Linked DNA regions of Homo sapiens: region 2 is linked to region 1. The links come from fine-mapping of genetic effects on gene expression. Tissue or cell type: whole blood. Region 1 holds a variant in brackets; the other region holds the start of a gene. All regions are shown on one strand. Distances are between the middles of the regions.

Region 1 (8,107 bases):
ACCTCCAAATCCCCATCCCTGAGGGTCTATTTCCTGGTACCAAGCACTGTAACAGGCACAGCTCAGTTTGGAAAACAGAAACCACACAAGGTACTTCAACAGAGGAAATTTATACAGGGAATTGGGTGTTGGGGGGTGGAATAGCAAAGGAGGAACATTACTGTAATACAGGGCTAAAAATAGCAGGAAGCAGCACCACCTCTAAAGCTGGAGGATTCAAAGGAAAGGAGTTGAGATGATCAGAACCTAGAAGGTTAGGGGATGGGCCCTGCAGGGCTGGTGTTCAGACCTCTGAGGAGTGGTTGCTATTAGGCTTTCTGCAGTGTCTGCAGCTGTTCTTAAGAGTTTCCATATATTTTTGTTGATTTTGGCAGTTTTGAGGAGTATTGGTTGGGTATTTTGTAGGATGCCCTCTATTGGAATTAGTCTGATGTTTTCCTCATGATTAGACTGGGATTGTGGATGTTACAGAGGAGGAATACAGAGATAAAGTGTGATTTTAGTCATATCTTATCAAGAGTACACACTGTCAGCATGATGTTGGGCTTGATCCCCTGGCTGAAATAGTATTTGTCAAGTTTCTCCACTGTAAAGTTATTCTTTCCCTCCCATTTCCATACTGTATTCTCGGGAAGCAAAGTCACCGTAGATAGCTCACACTTCAGAAGTGTAGAGTTAATACTGTATCTTCTTGAGGGTAGAGTATCTGCAAAAAACTGTTTGGAATTATTCTGCAAGGAAGATTTGTGTCCCAAACCCTTTATTTATCCAATCATTTATATCAATACAAACTCATGGATATTTATCTTATACTTTGGGTTATAATCTAATACTATTTCATTGGTTTTGTTGCTCAAATTGTTCCAGCTTTGGCCTTTGGGAACAGTTTCAGTTGGTTCCTGTGTCTCTTTAACATACCCCCATCAATATATGGGTGTTTTGTTTGTTTCTTTTTGTTTTTTAGTACTTCCTTACTTTTGGAGATTACAAAATACTCCCAGCTCATCTCATATGTTTCCTGCCCCAGTCCTAGGATCAGCCATTTCTCCAAGATACATCAGAGTCTTTTAAAACACTGAGTTATTTAGGAATATTCAGGAGGGGGAAAAAAAAAAACAACCCTAAGTTCTGTAGCACTGCATTGACTTGGCATGGTGCTTTGGGTCCAGATAGCCGAGGAAAGGGTATTGGACTAGACACGTGGTATTTATAAAGCCTTTCAACCTAAGCACTCTGAAGACAGGGTAGAGGACATGGATATGCTAACAAAACCATCCAGAATGAGTGACTGAGTGGGAAGCACAGCTGAACTTGTTTGGAGACAAGAGTGTCTATGTTAGCAGAAGGGAAACTTTCATAGTCATCAATATCATACACTTTAACACAGCCACACAAAAGATTTCTACTTTAGATCTTTAATTTTTTTTCCCAAAGGAATCACATCCTAACAGGTTAAAGAAGTTATTCAAAATACAGCTATACACCTGTGCCCCATTACTTATAGCACACTAGGAATGATTACTTTTTACAAATCCTGTAATTAGCTAGTAACTAGCACAATTATATTGCATTATCTCTTTTGTGCTAAAAATATTAACTTGCTAATGATGAGCATTTACAAATGAACTACAAATTGTATAACCTATTTTAGTATTTTTTCGTTTTTCTTTTTGGAGATGGAGTTTCGCTGTTGTTGCCCAAGCTGGAGTGCAGTGGCACAATCTTGGCTCAGTGCAACCTCCGCCTCCCGGGTTCAAGCGATTCTTCTGTCTCTGCCTCCTGAGCAGCTGGGATTACAGGCGCGTGCCACCATGCCCCGCTAATTTTTTGTGTTTTTAGTAGAAATGGGGTTTCACCATGTTAGCCAGGCTGGTCTCGAACTCCTGACCTCAGGAGATCCGCCCGCCTCTGCCTCCCAAAGTTCTGGGATTACAGGCATGAGCCATCGCGCCCGGCCGGAATTTTTTCATTTTAAAATTACTAGGAGACTCAAAAAGCAGAGGTGACTCAGGCCTCTCTAGGCCACAGAGGCCCTTGGATATAGATTTCTCCTTTCTTCTGACAGAAGCGGTTAGCTTAAATCTGTACAGATGAGAACACAATTATTGTAACACAGGAAAACCCACGTTGGTTTTGTACATTCGTGTTTGCTCTGTAAAGGGCAGCGCTCGTGCATCTTCAGCTGTATCTTGAAAGCTTTCCTGTTTCCGAAGCTTGCTTGCATTAAACATGAGGCGCCGCTAAGTGCTGTTGCCACCAGGGACTGCAGGCCGCTCTGCAGCCCTGGATGGGCTCAGTTCCGAGGGAAGGAAGGCGGCCGGCGGAGGCAGTGCTGTGCTGCAGAAGGACTGCTGTGCTGCGGAAGGACTGCTGTGGATTCTGACTGCAGACGGGTCTGATTTGGATGTTTTTTATTACTTAAGCGATTGATCGTTTCTCCTTGCCATCCTGTGAGGAGTGAGGGCATGCCTTGGATCTGTGAGGGAGGAGAAAACCCCTTTTCTAAGAAAGGGGAAGTGAAGAAAGAAGAAGCAAGGATGGTGGAGAAGTAAGAAAGGAACATGGGACCGGGCGCAGTGGCTCATGCCTGTAATCCCAGCACTTTGGCAGGCTGGGGAAGGGTGGATCACCTGAGGTCAGGAGTTCAAGATCAGCCTAGCCAACATGGTGAAACCCTGTCTCTAAAAAAAAATACAAAAGATAGCTGGGCATGATGGCGGGTGCCTGTATTCCCAGCTACTCAGGAGGCTGAGACAGGAGGATGGTGTGAACCCAGGAGCGGAGGTTTCAGTGAGCCAAGATTGCGCCATTGCACTCAAGCCTGGCAATTGAGCGAGACTCTGTCGAAAGAAAAAAAGAAAGAAAGAGAGAGAAAGAAAGAAAGAGAGAGAAAGAAAGAAAGAAAGAGAAAGAAAGAAAGAGAAAAGAGAGAGAGAAAGAAATAGAAAGAAAAAGAACAGAAAGAAAGGAAAGAAGGTAGGAAGGTAAGAGAGAAAGAAAGAAAGAAAAAGAAAGAAAGAAAGAGAAAGAAAGAAAAGAAAGAGAGAGAAAGAAATAAAGAAAGAGAAAGAAAGAAAGAAAGAAAGAGAAAGAAAAAGAACAGAAAGAAAGGAAAGAAGGTAGGAAGGTAAGAGAGAAAGAAAGAAAGAAAAAGAAAGAGAAAGAAAGAAAAAGAAAGAAAAGCTCTAGAAGGAAGAAAGGAGCCTGAGGGGAAAGACTGAGGAGGAAGCAGAAGAGACCCGGGGCCCCCACCCTCCCGCTCACCAGCGCTTTGCCTTGGTGGCTCTGACTCCCCCCTGTCTGGTGGCTGGTCATGCCTCCTCTCCCCTCTCTACCTTCTCTTCCTTCCTACGTTCCCACCTGACTCCAACCCTTTCCTCAGGGAGAACAGAAGGTCCCCAAGGAGCGCTGTGGACCAGGCATGCAGGTCCACGTCATCTCTGGTCCTGCTCCGACCTTTGGCACTGAGCCTCCTAATGCAGGATTTGGCTTGTTCCTGTGACAGCTCCCCCTCATCGCCCGCAACAGGGTACTGCAGTCCAGACTCCATCACTGCTCAGCTCTGGTGCTTTAGGCACCCCACATCACCTCCCCGAGCCTCAGTTTCCTTATCTGTAAAATGGGGATGGTACCAACTACCACAGAGGGTTGTTGTAAGGACTGAACGAGGGCACAGGCCTCCTTCCACACCTGCTACCAAGTAGGTACTGGATGCACGGCAGGCCCTGCCACTGCTTCTCAGAACCCTCTCGGGTTCCTAGGCCTCTTGAACCACAATTGATAGGAATGGGACCTGCCGGGAGCTTTCTGGACAAGCTTCCCAGGGGGCTCAGATGGACTCTCAAGCATTATTTCCAGAGATGAGTCTCTTCTCACCTGCCAGCTCCTGGGGCCAGGGCTCAGCACGGCCCCCTGGTCCTGTCTACTCTGGTGAGACTTCTTCTCTGCTGCCCCTCCCCACAGTGCACCCCACTCGCCTCAGACTTCCGCCCCCGCACAAGGGAAGGGGCTAAACGGAATGTTCCAAATGTTTTGCTATGAATTTACACTCTCCCTCCCTCCTAAACCCTGTAACTATTGACATGTTTATTTATTTTTTCTGTTAAGTTACCGGAATAATTCTAGTTGTGCTCAGCCTTCCCAGTA[T/TTGA]TGAGCAATTCTGCAGCTTTTATCTGCAACTGTTACTCCTGACAGTTAAGAACACGTCTGAAGTTTTGTTCTGTTTATGCCTCCAAGCGTGTTGCCGACACATCCGGGCAAGGACAAACGTACAACGAACTCAAGGGAGCTTTCACAGGCTGGAACGGGCTCAGAGCACCCCTGTTCTTAGAGGAACAATCAATGGGAAGCAAAGGTGTACCCAGGCCTCTCAACAGTTCCCGAGTGCTGTCACTGGAGGGCGATGTCTCCAAACAGTCTCTTTCCCCACTGGGAACGGCGCCGCCCGAGGGTTCAGGTCAAGCACGAGTTTCCAAATTCATTCAATTAGTAGGGCAACTGGAACCCATGCAGCTCCTTCAGAAATCCCGCAAAATATGGATACGCTATTAAGCTGGAGACAACAAAATTACTCAATATAGAATTTTGCATTCAATCAATTATACTGTCAGTATAATTATATAATTATAATTATATATAAGTCTCAATCCTGGCTGAAGGATCGAATCACCTACAAAGGATTAAAAACCATAGCGGTTCGGGCCCCACAAAAGGCCAGTTAAATCTGGAATCTGGAAGATGGAGCAGGGGAATTTGTATATTTTTAAAGCTCCCCAGTGATTCTATTGTTCAGACTACAAAATTCTAATTGAGACATTGGTGGCAGGCACCAAGGGAAAATTTATGGGAGAAAATTTTAATTTTAGACAATTCTATCATGTTTTCTCCTGCAAACTGGTAGAACTGCTTAGCCTAGTTCTGCAAAGGATCAATGGTTGAGAATTTCTGCATGAAGTCATCTTGCGTCTGGAAGCCCATTTTCAAATAATAACACCCTTGGAGAGCTAGCAAGTTGTTAACACCCGTGTGTGAATTATTTTTATCAGATATCAAGGATAGCTAGGATTCTGAGAAAACTGAGACCAGAGAAGCAAAAATTTTTTAAAGGGAAGAGAGAAGAAAATCTACATTGGCTCCTTCCCCCTACTCCCACCTTCCCCCCAATATATAGACTTCTCTTTAACAGTCAGTATTAAAAACTAAAAGAAAATTATCTAGAATCCCTCTATTTCTATTCACATTTTTATGTATTTTCTTTCCAGTACTTCATGCATATATATTTTCTAATCTGTGAGGTCTACATAATTTTGTCTTATCCTTTTTACCTTAACATTATAAGATGACCATTTTCTTAGGGCTTAGAAAAAATTTTAGAAGCATTATGAATGGCTGCCTAGAATCACATTTTGTGAACATACTTCAAATCACAACTACAGTGGAACACGGAGGATCAGTTTCACGCCCACTGGCTAAGAACTCACTGAACTCCCTGGCCAAGCTTAAGTTGGGTGTCCTCACCTAGTCCAACCAACTGAGGCTGAGGATAAGAGGAGTGGGGGCAAAGTCACTCATAGAAGCTGCTGGAGCCCATTTTCATATCTTTGTGGATGGACAATGGGAATCAGGATAGATAAGTCCAGAAAAGAGAAGCCTTGGCTGGGCGCAGTGGCTCACTCCTGTAATCCCAGCACTTTGGGAGGCCGAGGTGGGTGGATCACCTGAGGTCAGGAGTTCAAGACCAGCCTGGCCAACATGGCGAAACCCCGTCTCTACTAAAAATACAAAAATTAGCCGGCCATAATGGCAGGTGCCTGTAATCCCAGCTACTTGGGAGGCTGAGGCAGACAGAAGTGCTTGAACCTGGGAGGCAGAGGTTGCAGTGAGCTGAGATTGTGCCACTGCACTCCAGCCTGGGTGACAGAGACTTCGCCTCAAAAAAAAAAAAAAAAAAAGAAAGAAAGAAAGAAAGAAAAGAAGCCTGGGCAGGTGGCTCATAGGTGTCCTCTACAATCTGTTCTTTCCTAACTCTTTCTTGGCTTTTGCATAGGACACACTATGTTACGAGCTATGTGGGGATCAGGGACAATACTCAAAGGAGCTAAGAATCCAAATGAGGAAACATAACATATATGAAATGAGAAGTTAAATAATAGTAATATTTGCTACATTTTTACAGAACAGCTATTATTATGTGCCAGGCTTATTATTTAATTTACTCTTCAGAATCATTCTATAAGCAAGCTACCAATATTCCATATTTATAGATAAGAAAACTGAGGCTGAGAGAAGTAAAGTCACATTTGTTAAAGGTAACCAGAATTTGAACTCAAGCAGCCAAAGCCCTCACTATTTCCACAGCACTGGGCAATCTCCCAAGACTGCATTGTGATCTGATCTTAATGGAGGAACAGACTCTCAGAAAATTGGGCATCATCTTACAGTGTCTCAAAACAAACAAACAAACAAAAATCCTGCAAATCCTTTAATCCCTATTTTACCTCCCTCCCTTGGGACATGGCTTAGGTAAGCTCCAAAATTAAGTTAGAGAAGGAAACAGATCTCATCTAAAAAATGCAATTATACCACAGCCAGATGAATAAATCCATATGAATACTGAAATACACACATACTCTGAGCACTAATACTTTTCAAGAAAGGTAATGATGCAGGAAAAAAATGTCTATGAAATAGAGCATTTTATAGAGTTCCCAAATTTCTGTCTGTTGAATCTCCCGGAAGTGGCATTCCCCTTTCTTGCAATAACAGACGATTGCTCAAATGCCTCATAAGAAGCGGTGGGCATCGTCAACTGGGGGGCTTTGGTTTTGCAGAGGGACGGGTTTACTTTTGTTTGTTTGTTTTGTTTTTCAGACAGGGTCTCGCTCTGTCACCCAGGCTGGAGTGCAGTGACCCCTGCTGATTGCCTGGCGTAATACAAGGCTGGACCTACAGGAAGACTGACTAGCTTCCTTCGAGCCAATATTCTTTTTTACTTTTTAGACACAGGAGGCTCTCGCGGTGTGCCCAGGCTGACTTGAGCTCCGAGGCTCAAGGGATTTTCCCACTTCAGCCTCCCAAATAGCTGGGACTGCAGGTGCACACCATCATGCCCAGCTATAAGCCAATATCTTTACATATGTATTCCACACTTATTTAGAGGGGTGACATCCGGCATTCAGTGGGGAAGACAATAGTGGTGCTCTAAGCCTTTCCTCTGTTGCCTGTAACCAATTAGCTCTTGCTCCAAACTCACACACTTCACTATACGATCACACAGTGCATGATTCAATTTACATGAAATGCCCAGAACAGACAAATCTATACAGACAGGAAGTAAACTTGGGCTTGCCTAAGGCTGGGGGTTGGAGGCGGGAGGATTGGGGTGATGGCTAAGGAGAGCAGTGCTTCTTTTGGCGATAATGAAAATGTTCTGAAATTATAGAGATGGAAGCACAGCTCCGTGAATATATTAAAAGCCATTGAACCATACACTTTAAATGGGTGAATTGTATAGTATGTGAATTACATCTTAATAAAACTGTTAAAAACCCTTCAGGCTGGGTGCAGGGGCTCATGCCTGTAATCCCAGCACTTTGGGAGGCCAAGGCAGGCAGATCGCATGAGGCCAGGAGTTGGAGACCAGCCTGGCCAATATGGTGAAACCCTGTCTCTAGTAAGATACAAAAAAATAGCCAGGTGTGATGGTGCACGCCTGTAATCCCAGCTACTCTGGTGGCTGAGGCAGGAGAATCACTTGAACCTGGCAGATGGAGGTTGCAGTGAGCCGAGATCACGCCACTGCACTCCAGCCTGGGCAACAGAGTGAGACTCCATGTCAACACACACACACACACACACACACACACACAGATTCCTGGGCCCCTTCCTAGGAATTCAATGTGTTGCATGGGTGTAGATATCTGTATTTTAAGGAAGCACTCCGAGTGATTCTGATGCTGTAGGGCATGAGACAGGCATTTGGAAACCACCATACAAGGCTTCGCTTCAGAGATAAGACAAAAGCTTCCTTTGTTTCCACATTTCCCTATCAGTCCAACTTCCTTGTAGAAGCAGCAACAGGGACCTTCCCTCCTTACAAGGCCATCTCAAT
Region 2 (8,107 bases), 55 kb before region 1:
CCCAGATCTCTCTCTTTACTTCCTAATTCAAACTCATCACCCAATACTCTATGTCTCCACATAGATGTAATTGTATAGATAATCAAATTCTAACATATTAAAAAATCCATCTCATCACCTTTCTACATCTCCATGGTCCCTATTCCAATTAATGGCATCTTCAACTAACTTCTTCCAAGCTAGAAACTCCAGCAACATCTTTCACTTCACCAAATCACTCCTTTTATCACTTGGAAAATTTGGTTGATCACATCTCATCTATCAAGACTACCATCTCCTTCCTATTTCTACAGGGATGAACCCTTATAATCCTTGTCTAAACTTACACAAAAGCATCAGAAATGGTTTCCTGCTCCTAGTTTCTCCCCTTGACAAACAAACTTTGTGTTACACCAGCATAGGGTTTAGTTAAGAGGTTTTACAAGGTGTGTTATGAAAGCTTCTGTCCTTCCTCCCAAACTCTCAATCTCCTGTTCCACAGAGGCAACCTCTTTCAAGACTTTTGAAAATATTTTGGGAAAAAATTGTATCTGTACTGAACATGTACAGGTTTTTTCTTGTCATTATTCCCTAAACAATAAAGTATATCAATTATTTACATAGCATTTGTTGTATTAGGTATTATAGAAACCTAGAGACAATTTAAAGTATATTGGAGATTGATGCCTAGGTTATATGCAAATACCACACCATTTTACATTAGGGACTTGAGCATCCTCAGGCTTTGGTACCCTTGGGAGGTCCTGGAACAAAGCCTCCATGGAGGATACCAAGGGATGACTTTTGATTCCTGGCTTTCTTCATTGTTGGCTTAGGATTCAGCTTTCTTAGGTCGGCCACATCAGAGTTAACCCATCTTATGGCTACTTTCTAATTCTGAAAATGCTATTGCTGTTCTCTCCTAACTTATCCTTTTGGGCATATGCTTTGGAAAATCTCTTTACTGTCATTTTAGCGGGATTTGAGGAGGGAATGTTGCTAACAATTGATGTGTTCAACTCACAAATTCCAGAAGTCTGCCAAAATTTGGAAGCAGGTATCATCTAACTCTATTTCTCTTTCTTTTTTAAACTTTTATTTTAGGTTCAGGGAGACATGCGCAGGTTTGTTATATAGGTAAAACTCATGTCATCGGTGTTTATTGTACAGAGTAAACAGACAACCTACAGAATGGGAGAAAATATTTGCAAACTATGCATCTAACAAAGGTCTAATATCCCAGGATCTATAAGGAATTTAAACACATTTATAAGAAAAAAACACAAACAACCCCATTAAAAAGTGCACAAAGGACATGAACAGACATTTTTTAAAAGAAAACATATATGTGGCCAACAAGCATATGAAAAAAAGCTCAATATCACTGATTAGAGAAATGCAAATAAAAACCACAATGAGATATCATCTCACACCAGTCAGAATGACTATTATTAAAAAGTTAAAAAAAGATTTATTTTTATCTCTTTTCTCAACACCATCCCAACTGGGTTCCAATTTTCTAGATTTTTCTGTGTCTTCACTAATTAAACTTCATTTTAGAAAAGGATTTAACAAATTCATTCCCCCTGAAGTCTAATGAATGACAGAGTTTGATGTGTTACATCTCCCAAGAGTATTTTCATTTTAACAAGGACTAAGTTTCTTATTTGGCTTAAGCCAAAGGGATAAAGGCATTAAGTTCTAACTGAGAAATTTCAGGTACCCACACCTAAGTGGTTTGGAGGCTAGGGGAAGGTTTTCTTGTGTTTTCTCAAATCACAGGCTTTGGGGCAGGTCCGACTGTGCCCATGTATTGAGCTAATTGATGATGTCAGAGTCACAGCAGGCATTCTAGGATGACAATCAGAAATAGGAATATCTGCTCAGTTACAATTCTAGTCCAACTTGTGTGTCTTGAAACCTAGACAGCAGGTAGATGAATCACCATCCTAAATATTGATATTAATCTAGAGCAAAACATATATTTTATTGTGTTTATAATAAGTACACAAAGATAGACATCATCAAATACACACAACTCTAACTAAGACCTCCTCATACAATTAGTGGTTGTAAGGCATTTTGGAACTACAAAATGCCATATAAATGCATGATAATTAGATCATGAAACTAATTATGGTTAATAATATGACTAACCATCTTAAACTGTGTATGAATATAATAACAATAAGCATACATACATGCTCTCAGTTGAAGCAGACACGGCCAGAATTTGGTAAGGGGCACAAAACAACAGAGGATGCCTCCAGCATTCTGGGGGTAGTACGTAGAAAATTAAGGTCGTATTTATCTGCCAAGGAGCACCGCAGGGATATAAACCACAAAAACAGGAGGGAAAAGAAGCCCAGTTAAGATCTCCTCCTTAATTCCTGATTTCTGGCCCTATTATTTTGCTAAATACCACTACCACAACTCAGAACAAGTATAAGTGTCTGTGCATCTCTTACTAGGGACTGGGCACTGTTAAAGTGTTTTACATATATTAATTAATTCCCACAACAACCTCAAGAGGTAGGTACTGTTCTCCCCTTTTGACATATAAGCAAATTAAAACACAAAGAAGTTAAATAACTTTCCACTGTGGGTGGCAGAGCTGGGACTTAGGCTACCCAGCCCCAGAGCCTGGCCAGTTACCACCACTCCATATGACAGCCACCTTTTCTCTGTTCCATGAATCAATTACAGATATATATACGTGTGTGTGTGTATACATGTATATATACGTATGTGTATATATACGTTTGTGTATGTATAAACGTATGTGTGTGTATACATGTATGTGTGTGTGTGTGTGTGTGTGTGTGTGTGTGTGTGTGTATTTTTTTTTTTTTTTTTGAGATGGAGTTTTGCTCTTGTTGTCCAGGCTGGAGCGCAATGGCGCAACCTTGGCTCACTGCAACTTCCGCCTCCCGAGTTCAAGGATTCTCCTGCCTCAGCCTCCCAAGTAGCTGGGATTACAAGCATGTAATCCCATTACACCACCACGTTCGGCTAATTTTTTTTTTTTTTTTTTTTTTGTATTTTTAATAGAGACGGAGTTTCACCATGTTGGCCAGGCTGGTCTCGAACTCCTGGCCTCAAGTGATCCTCCCGCCTTTGCCTCCCAGAGTGCTGAGATTACAGGCGTGAGCCACCGCGCCTGGGCCAGATACGTATTTTCAGCACTGGTTGTGCAAAACTCACTCCCCACCTCATCTTAAGAACTTAATGAACCTTTTGGTAAAACGCCAATACCAGCATAAAACAAATTTCTTCAGGATACAAATATTTTCATAATTTGTATTAACTCAACCTAAACTTTACCAGCCTGAACTGCTTCTTCAAGGCTTGACTAATACACTGTTAGGGAGTATTTTAAGCAGCCTCCACCCAAGTGCTTACCTTGTAGCTCTATTTATCTGCCTTAGGCATTTACTGGACTCCTTTCAGATTCTTTCCCTCGCTAATGTTTTCCGGTATCATCTGATAACTGAATAGAAAATGCTGTTCTGAATCACTACACCTCACTATCAACCATATCACAAATAAATTATGTTATATATTATATATAAATATTATAATGGGCTATTTAAACTAAGCCAGCCGTCTTACCATGTGCTCATGTGGGATTTCCTGTTTCAATGTTGAATAATAATATATTTTAAAGTTAGCAAAGCCATTTCACCTGCAGTCGTTGATTTCTTCAAAATCTGAGCATTTAAATCCATTGCCAATGTTTGCTTAAAGAACACTGTTTTCTTAACGAGTCTTCCAAATCGGTCCTTACAGGAAGAACCTCTGAATGCTATACGCATATATGGACGGCTGCGTGTCCCTACAAAGTCAGCCTGTTACTTCCACTGGAGAAACAAAACTCTTGAGAATCGCTGAGCTGTAAAAATGTTAGAAAGCCGGTGTCCCAGGCGCCCTGAGAAAGCCGGGAGAGGGCGGTGGCTGCCCACAGGCCGCCTCCAGCCCCGCGCGAGGCCGAGGCCTCAGCGCGCCCCCCGCCCCCGCGGCGCCTAGCGGCCCCGCCGCAGGGCAGGCCTGGCCGGGCCTCCCCGGGCTGCGGCGGCGCCCCCTGCAGGCCGCGGCGGGCAGAGCGGGGGGAAGGAACCCGAGCCGGGCTGCCACCGTGTCCCAACCGGTGCCGCCGCCGGAGCTTCTCCGGGCCCCGAGTCCTCGCCGAACGCCCTCCTCGCCGCCCGCCGCGTCCCGGCGCCCTCCGGAGCCGCCGAGCCGCCCGCGCACACCTGAAGCGGCCGGGCCAGGCCCTGCCTCGATCCTCAGCTCGTCCTCCCCGCCCCGCACCGGCCTTCACTCTGGAGCGGCCCCGGCAGCCGCAGCAGGGGCGGCGGCGGCGGATCGAGGAGCTCTCCAGGTCGTCCCGGGAGAGGCTGCTGCAGTCCCGGGACAGGATGTTCTCCAAGTTCACCTCCATCCTGCAGCACGCCGTGGAGGCGGTAAGGCCGCGGGCTGCGGGCGCACGGCAGGCCGGGGATGGCGGCGGCCTACGCTCCCCGGCGGCCTCGGGGACAAGCCGGGCGGCCTTGGCCCGGCCCTCGGCGGCCCTGTCCCCGGTTGGGGTGAGGCCCCAGGCGGGCGCCCTGGGCGGCCGCCGGGTCGTGGGGGCGCCCGGGGCCTCGGGCCTGGCTCTGCGGGGGTCCCGTCGGTCCCTGGCTGCCCCAGGCCGGCAGTCCCTGCCCTCCTCCAGGAGCCGGGGCGGGGGTGCCGGGGAGGACCTGGCCGCCCAACGCCGCTCGGTGGTCGCCTCATTCCTCTGATGGGGCCGGGGGTTCGGGGAGCACCTGGCGGGGTCGCAGAGAGCTCCCCCGGGCTCCCTTAACGTTAACCTTCTCCGGAAAAAAAGTGGTCAGCGTTGAGCAAGACAAAAGAAACGAGCAAGCACCGCTTGGGCTTGGTTCTGTTTTGTTTTGGTTTTCGGGGGTAGAGGTGGGAGAGGCATGGTCTCGCTGTGGGGCGTCCCTGGCGAGGGAGCCGCCGACCAGCCCCCGGGTTGCTGGCTTTTGCTTTCTTGGGCCTGGAGGCCGAACTCAGCTGAACCTTATGTATTGATCTGAAATAGGAGTTTGGAGGGTCCAGTCGAGTTTGCTTTCGACAGCTTCCAAGCTCACCGAGCCCAGAGACCATCTGTTTCCTTTCTTGTCTAGTTCTCTTCCTGGACACTCTTCGTTTATCCTGCAATTGTACTCTCCTTTGAGGGTTTTAGACACCAGCATAGAGACAGTATTCAAGTATCCTAGTAGACTAATAAGTGAAAAGAAACTAAAAAGAAAATGCCTTGTCACTGTTCTAGTAAGAATGCTAGTTGCTTCACTTGTTTACTTTATTCTGGGAGAACTGCCCAAATTGAAAAATGCATTCTGTGCAGAAACAATTACTTTGCTAATTTTTAACATGACATTCTCTTCCTATGTTCATATTATGTGATAGGACACTTTAAAATGTACACTTTAAAAATGTCAGATACAACAATGATTTTTTATGGGCAGGCAAAAATGGAGTTTTTGCCTTCAGTAATAAAAACAAACTTTAGTACAATTGTTATTTAAGTGATACATGAGAAGCGTTAAAAAATTTAGCTCTAGGGCAAGCTCTTGGGAAAATGTATCAAACAGGAAAAACAGGGTTTCATAAATGTAGAGCAGTATTACACGGAGGGAAATGACAGTGGTAGACTTCAAGACAACTTTTAGTTTTTACTTGCTTATACACACTCTACTTTTGTTGAAAGAATTTAACTGCAGTTTATTAAAACATTTAAATTTTGTTTTCTTTAAAAATACCAAGAATCATTTAATTTTATTTATTTATTTATTTATTTATTTTTTGAGACCGAATCTCATTCTGTCACCCAGGTTGGAGTGCAGGGGTGTGATCTCAGGTCACTGCAACCTCCGCCTCCCGGATTCAAGCGATTCTCCTGCCTCAGCCTCCCTAGTAGCTGGGATTACAGGCACCCGCCACCACACACGGCTAATTTTTTTTTTTTTTTTTAGTAGAGATGGGGTTTCACCATGTTAGCCAGGCTGCTCTCGAACTCCTGACCTCAAGTGATCGCCCGCCTTGGCCTCCCAAAGTGCTGGGATTACAGGTGTGAGCCACCACACCCGGCCCGAATCATTTTAACCTTGAATATATGAAATACTTGGGAACACTTAATGAGATACTTGGTAATCAAAATTTACTATATTGCAGTCAGCTGTCTTATCCGTAGGCTCTGCACCTGTGATTTAACCAAACTCAAGTAAAAAAATATTTGAGGGGGAAAAAAATTCTGCAGAGTTCCAAAAAGCAAAACTTGAATTTGCCATATTCAAGTACTGCCTTGAATCCATGTGAATGAAGTGATGTGTAGGCATTGTATTAGGTATTAGAAGCAATCTAGAGATGATTTAAAGAATACAGGTATGCATAGGTTATATGAAAATATGCCATTTTATAACAGGGACTTGAACATCCTCAGATCTTAGGGGTAGGAAGAGATGTCCTGGAACTAGTCCCCTACAGATACCAACTATATTTATATCCTTTACCCATCAGGCTAGTATTTACAGAAATAAGTACTTAGAAAAAGAAAGACGGCTTTCCTGCTCTCCTAGTAAAGGCTCATTTTTATCCGGAGGCCTGTGTTTTCTTGTCCTCGTTATCTTTTTATAATTGTATATATTAGCATCTGCCAAATTATCTGGCTCCTGCTCTGTAATATCCTTAGCCTACTTTGCTGAGGTTAGTGAGAAAAAGTTAGAGTGGCTTGTGTTCACCTAGTCCTGAAATTAATGCATTGCATTTAGAAGTGTAATGTTTTCATTTGCTTAGACCTAATGTTTTCATTTGTGGCACCACCCATCTTATCTTGATAGGAGGTTAAATCTCATGAAAAATGTTTGATGTTCTATACTAACCTTTTTTTCCCCCCTTTTAACATTCTCTCTTGGGAATGAACTCATGTGCAATGATGAATAAGCCATCCTTGTGTATTTGGATAGTTTTTTCGTAGCCCAAGGTTAGTTTCCAGTTATTCAGTTCTGTTTATTAATTTGCTTGATATTTTCCTCTATGAACCAATCTTACCATTCCTCAGTTCATTTCATTAGCTCTTCTGTGTGTTCCTGTTCATGTGTACGTCCAATTAGCATTTCCTGATGCAGTATTCCAATTAACATAGTTATCAGGATTATACAGAGACAGAAAATACCTGGATGCTGACATGAGCTTTTTTCATTATTTTGTTGGATCAGTCTGTGGAGTAATGCTTTTCCAACCATTTTGGTATGATTACTTTCCAGGTTTCCTTATTTAATTGATAAGCCTTCAAATGGGTTTTTAATTTTTAATTAACTATTTACTTATTTTTCGAGACAGGGTCTCTGTCACCCAGGCTAGAGTGCAGTGACATGATCATGGCTCACTGCAGCCTCAACCTCCAGGGCTCAAACGATTCTCCTGCCTCAGCCTCCTGAGTAGCTGAGACTATAGGCCAGCACCACCACACTCAATTTTTAAAAAAATTTTTTGTAGACACTGGGCCTCACAATGTAGACACTGTGCCCAGGTTGGTCTCACATTTTTGGGCTTGAGTGAGCCTCCCACCTCCATCTCCTAAAGTGCCAGGATTATAGGGATGGAGCCATCATACCTGGCCCAAATAGTTTTTTTAGTGTTGACTGGATGTATTCATTTAAGTGAGGCTTAAACATAGAGTTTATCTTACTGTTTAATTAATGGTTTCTCCTCACTCCCTGGCAACTACTTATAACGTGAAAAATATGACTAAGATATTTTCCAAAATTAATATTTGAAAATGTGTTGTTAAGCTGATAGACTGCATTTTGAGTATGGAAGATAAGTTCACACCTTCTTGATTAAAAACAAGAACTGTAATGTAACTCCTGCCTCCCTTTTTAGAAATGACAGTCTTCTCTCAGTACAGAAATGATTGGCCAGTAAGAGTCTTATGAAATGAATCTGTTAGCCAGTTGCCGCATGTCACAAGTCTGAATTCAGGCCTTTCTTGTAGTTAGTTCCGGGGTTAGATTGGATTGTTTTAACACAACTTCTTCAAAAGATAGATAAAACACTTTCCATGTAGTACAATTTGGTATTT

What was found. PIP is the estimated chance that this variant, and not a neighbour inherited with it, causes the effect.
Region 2: it holds the start of FHIP2A, and the variant in region 1 is fine-mapped to the expression of FHIP2A in whole blood (TOPMed, PIP above 0.99).

The regions. Positions count from the first base shown.
Region 1 is chr10:114,872,847-114,880,953 of GRCh38, forward strand. It overlaps a transcript of FHIP2A not described here. Among named protein-coding and RNA genes, the nearest start is that of FHIP2A, 55 kb to the left of the region's middle. RefSeq lists an enhancer at 7,938-8,107. The variant T/TTGA (reference allele first, on the strand shown) is at 4,147.
Region 2 is chr10:114,817,682-114,825,788 of GRCh38, forward strand. It overlaps FHIP2A (FHF complex subunit HOOK interacting protein 2A), which reads left to right and starts at 4,099. Exons shown (of 17, transcript NM_020940.4): 1 at 4,099-4,442. The coding sequence starts at 4,398. LOC124902508 (translation initiation factor IF-2-like) reads right to left here and starts at 5,267. Exons shown (of 2, transcript XM_047426127.1): 1 at 3,592-5,267. The coding sequence starts at 4,420. The coding sequence ends at 3,815. RefSeq lists silencers at 3,848-4,157, 4,168-4,517, 4,578-4,797 and an enhancer at 4,503-5,003.